Regions from separate parts of the Homo sapiens genome. Here region 1 is linked to region 2. The links come from fine-mapping of genetic effects on gene expression. Tissue or cell type: monocytes after Pam3CSK4. Region 2 holds a variant in brackets; the other region holds the start of a gene. All regions are shown on one strand. Distances are from middle to middle.

Region 1 (2,500 bases), 85 kb after region 2:
GCTACTGCATCTCTCCCTGCCACCTGCAAGCTGATGGCACGCAGGACCCTGACTCCTATCCATGAACCTGGGGCCCGTCGCCTGTCTTCAGTGAACCCCTGTCCGGCCACAGCAGAGTCTGCTTTCCTAAGAGGCACCCCAAACAGGGAAAAAGGTACAGCAGGTTTTCCAGCATTTTCCTCCACGTACAGAGTCAACCTGCACGGTGAGATGCAACCTAGAGCCGACTGCCTCAAGGGAGGCTGTTCTAGGGTCTGACCCCGACATTCTCTCCCCCAAGCAGCCTCTCCCTGGGGCGCCCTAAGCAGTTCAGGGACCTGCACCCTGACCCTTCCCACACAGTCCTGTGGAGACATGCACTTAACCACAGTCTCCAGGAAAGAAGGCATCACCCAAGAGGGCACCCCGGCTGGAGAGTTAGGGCAGGAAAGAGTGCCCTTCACTCAATACCCGGACAGAGCAGGGGTCCAAGGATCAAGGGAATGGGCACGAGACATCAGTTCTGAAGAGACCAGAGCTGGAAACAGTCCTAGATGAGGCCCCTCGGGTGGCCAGGAGACCACCGGGTTTCCCTTTTGACTCTAATTCTGTGACCTTGGGGACAGCGGTTTACCTTTCCGGGCCTCAGTTTCTTCATCTGAAAGACCAGAGGGCTGGTGGGATGATTTCTGAAGGGCCACCCGGTGGTGCCCAGGGAAGGGCGACCTCGAGCTCGGCCCTAACTCCCGGCCTTAGTTTCCCCAAGAGAAAGAAGCTTCACTTCCTCCCTGGCCCCCGAGCGCTTACCCAACGGGCAGGCGCCCTTCTGCAGCTGGCGCACGGGCGTCCCGGAGAGCTGCAGCGCGCGGCGGCTGGCCGCCTGCAGCGCGCACACGTTGGCATAGGTGTGCCCGTCGGTGCCACACACGGCGTGCGACCAGCGGCAGCGGCATAGGCCGCGCACGCACTCCAGGCTCTCGCCGCAAGGCGAGTCCAGAGGGCCGCCACAGGGCTCGCCCTCGCTGGCGGCGCACACCAGGCAGCAGTTGCAGAGGTCGGGCACGTAGCCGCCGGGGCAGCGGGGGCTGGGACACCGCGACACGTCGCAGCGCGCGGGACACGGCGCCGCAGGGGGCTCCCGGGCCAGCGCCAGCGCGGCCAACGCGGCCAGGAGCAGCGCTCGCGCCTGCATGGCGGCAGGGCCGGCGGCGGGTGGCAGCGCGGGAGACCGGGCGGGGGCCGGCGGGGACAACGAGGCCGCTGCGGGGCCGGGCGCCGGGCGCCTACGGATGGGACTGGGGCGGACGCGCGGTCACATGCGCCGGTGGCTCAGGCTGGCGGGCGTCAGGGCGGCAGGGGCATCCCCAGGGCGCAGGGAGCGCAGGGACCAGCTCCCTCCAGCCTGACGGTCCGCGGGCGGCGGGTCCCGCGCCTTTAAAGGCGACCGCCCAGCCCGCCCTCGCTGGAAGGGGCGGCCCGGCCCCTCCGCCAGCCCCGCCCAGGCCCCGACAGGGCCCCGCCTGGCCTTCCGGGCCTGGACCCACCCGGCAGGCCTTGGGACTCTGGTCGGCCTGGTCGAGAAAACCCGAGGCTACAGACACGCAGGGGTCCTTTCTGGTGGGGACCCCCGGGCCCAGCCTATCCCAGAAACGTTGGGGGATGCGTTCTCCCCGCTCTGGAGGGGTCTGTCCGTGTCCAGTCTCCTCTGTGCCTCAGTTTCCTCCTCCAGGAAAGGGGAATTGACAGCATTTCTCAACCTCATAGGGTCGTTGGAAGAACCACAGAGGCCATGGCTGAGCAGTGTTCCCGAGTCCTCGCTGTCCACGGAACCGGAAGCTGTTTCCATTCTCATCATTGCTCCTGCATTTTCTGCAGGGCCCCTTCAGACCCAGGTCCCATCACGAGAGTCAGAATCTGGTGACAGTGCGTCAGCTGATGGGGTGAAGGCTGCGGAGTTGTGAGAGAAGGCAGAACCCCCCTTGGAGGTGAATGTCAAGCCTGAAGAGGAAGGATGGGAAGCGGGAGCTGGCCGTGACCTGGGCAGAGGCTCCCAAGCAAAAGCAGGTCGGGGCAGCAGGAGATAACGCCGCGCGCACAGCCTGGAGCTGCGGTCTTCACACTGTGTGTGTTCCTAGTACCCTGGGCTGCCTGGCGAAGCCTGGGTGTCCTTTTCAGAACGATGTCGTCAAGTAGATTTAAACGCATAAAACAAAGACCATGGGGTCACAAAGGGGAACAATTCTATCAAAACACAGTTATCAAAATACATGAAACAATTCATGACAGCGTGGCCTATGGGCTTCTTTATCAGCATGTTAATGGCAGGTTCTGGTCGGTCTGTCGTCTGATACCAGTGGACACTTCGCAGCAGCCCTGTGCAGAGGGCTGCCACTGGAGACACCTTCGGTGAGGGCGGTAACATGGGGATGTAAACACTGCTTCTGCTGGCCGTGGAGCCACAGGCCCTGCTGGCTGGGGTCAACTGCACCCCCAAAGGAATGAATGCTGGACTTCAGTTGGA
Region 2 (2,758 bases):
TGCGTGAGTTGGTCCCAGTGGCTTGCTGAGACATGCTCTGCACAGGGGAGATTTCTTATACCAGCAGTGTGGGAGGCAGTGGGGCAGGTAGAGCCACAAGTGGGGATGAGGGAGCAGAGTCTAGGGCAGGCTCCTGGATGGACACCAGCTACACTGTCTATTGGATGTGGGACTTCCCTCACTGATGAAATGAATAAGAGAATCTTCCTCATCCTGCTGTTGTTGGCGTTAAAACGGGTTAATGCATGAAAGCAACAAAGCCCGGCCTGCAGACAGCACATGGTAAGTCTCCTCTTCCCAGCATGTTCAACAGGAAGCCCTCATTCCCTCTAGAATGTAGGAGTCTTGCCAGCAGTGGCCTGTTTGTTCTCTGCCTGTTGCCGACCTGATGAGAACATAAAATTGGTGTCTTCTGTATAGATTTCCTTCTTATTGCCCCTACTGTGGCTGAACATACCTTCCCCCGTGCTTGAAGTCTGTTCATATATGTTCTGCTGTGATAACTGCCCATTCTTGTTCTCTATCTAAGAAGGCATTTAGTTTTGAAAATATTTTGTTGGCTTGTAAGATATTTGTACATATTAAGCACAGCAAACCTGTAACATATTCACTGTAAATCATTATTCCTCATGCATCATTTGCCATTTAACTGTATTTTTTTCCTTTTTGATGTAACCTGCTATAGTTTACATTTTTAAATCAGAAATGCCTGCACATTTTAAAACGAAGACTCTTATGCTCTAGCCTTTGAGGTCATGCTTGGAAAGTCCTTTCTCACACAAAGATTATTTACACTTTCATCTCTTTTTCTCTGAGTACGTTTCAGTGTTTAATTGACCAGGAATGTATTTCGAGGTGTGATATGAGACAAGGATCTGAAATGCTTTGCCCACTGAATCATCATGCACTGACCGAAATGCCACCTGTATGAGTGCTAAAATCATTGTCGCTGGACCTGTGTCTGCACTGTTTAATTTTAGTGTTGTTTCTCACATCAGCTTCTGTTGTTTTCATGGTTGTGGTTCTCATACTTTTAATATCTGTTGGAGCAAATAAAGCCTCGTTTCTCATCTTTTCCAAAAATGTCTTATGTATGTGAACTTTGGTGTTATTTGTCAAGTCTGGGCATTCTCCCACCCCCATATTAAAGAATGCTCTCTGGAGTTTGTCTGGAGGTTTTGTTTAACTTTTAGATTCACATCAGGAGAATCTTTGTCTTCATGGTAAGTGGTCTTCCCATCTAAGACTATTTCTTCAAGCTGTTTGTAATAAAAAGCTGTGTGATTTTTGTATGTTTATTTTGGTCACCTTATTGAAACCTTATTTTAATTATGACAGTTTTTCATTGATTCTCTTTGGTTTTCCTTCTCTATCATTGGCAAATAGTGATGGTTTACCCTTACCCTTCTGATATAGTTTGGCTGTGTCCCCACCCAAATCTCATCTTGAACTGTAGTTCCCATAATCCCCACGAGTCATGGAAGGGACCTGGTGGGAGGTAATTGAATCACGGGGTAGTTACCTCCATGCTGTTCTTGTGATGGTGAGT[G/A]AGTTCTCATGAGATCTGATGGTTTTATAAGGGGCATTCCTCCTTTTAATTGGCACTTCTCCTTCCTGCCGTCATGTGAAAACGGACGTGTTTCCTTCCCCTTCCGCCATGACTGTAAGTTTCCTGAGGCCTCCCCAGCCATGCTAAACTGTGAGTCAATTAAACCTCTTTCCTTTATAAACTACCCAGTCTTGGGCAGTTCTTTATAGTAGCGTGAGAACGGACTAATACACCTTCCAAAACTTTTACCCGTCATTTAACTTTCCTGTCTAATGACATCTGCTGGCCCTGCGGGATCAATCTTTCACACCATGCTGGGGAACCATTGCTTGGTGTCTGCCATTATGGGAATGCCTTCAGCCTTCGTATTAGTTTGATGCCATGTGGACGGTGGACTGGAAAGACAGTCTTGCTTGGCAGTGGACACAAGTGTGTGCCCATGGTTGTGCCCGTGGCCAGAAATCTCTGTGACTCACCAAGGGAGATGCCTGCAGAATGAGAGAAGTTTCTCACTGTGAGCTTAAACACAGAGGGAGCTTCCTGCGGCTACACGGGGCCAGCTGGGATGCATGCCTGCAGAGACATCTCAAAACCACAGGCGGATGAAGAAGATAAAAATCAGCCAGACCCCATCATCTGTGAAAGCCCAGAAATATCTTGGGGTTGAGGTCTTTGCGGCTGTCACTGCTAAGGATCTTGATGGTGGCGGAGGCGTGGGAACTCTTTCATTTTAGGATGTGTAGTTGACATGGAGCAGCCTCTTGGAAACTTGGTTTGGATGCACTTCTGACGGCTCAGCCCAAGCGTGAATCACGTTCCCCCATCATTGTGTATCCACCCCACCCTCCAGGTTTTAGGTGGTTCCAGCCCCTGGGCTGCCGGCCAGCAGGGAGTGTCCATCTGACCAGCATTTAGTGAACACCTAGCTACACGTAGCACTGTGTGGGGACAGCATGTGCCATAGGACCACCTCCTCGTCACCAGAAACTGCCTTCCTCCTTGACTTTGTTCATGTGGGCCTTTTACTAAGACACTTCACAGGCTTTTCATGGGTCCCATGGGGCCGTGTCCCCATCTGAAGCATGCCCCAGCCATGGGTCCCCTGGAAGTCAGGGGGTCTTGGCTTCTCTCCTTGTGTGGTGGACCCTGTGGGCTTCCTGTCCAACTTCCAACCCTTCCTCCTCACTAACAGAACCCCAGTTCTGTCCA

What was found. PIP is the estimated chance that this variant, and not a neighbour inherited with it, causes the effect.
Region 1: HTRA3 starts here. The variant in region 2 is fine-mapped to the expression of HTRA3 in monocytes after Pam3CSK4 (Quach 2016, PIP 0.95). The same link has a PIP of 0.9 or more in monocytes after R848.

Annotation. Positions count from the first base shown.
Region 1 is chr4:8,268,640-8,271,139 of GRCh38, reverse strand. HTRA3 (HtrA serine peptidase 3) reads right to left here and starts at 1,386. Exons shown (of 9, transcript NM_053044.5): 1 at 787-1,386. The coding sequence starts at 1,171. It overlaps LOC105374373 (a long non-coding RNA gene), which reads left to right and starts at 959. Exons shown (of 2, transcript XR_001741572.2): 1 at 959-1,033; 2 at 1,744-2,500.
Region 2 is chr4:8,353,630-8,356,387 of GRCh38, reverse strand. It overlaps a transcript of ACOX3 not described here. Among named protein-coding and RNA genes, the nearest start is that of LINC02517, 35 kb to the right of the region's middle. RefSeq lists an enhancer at 2,549-2,758. The variant G/A (reference allele first, on the strand shown) is at 1,550.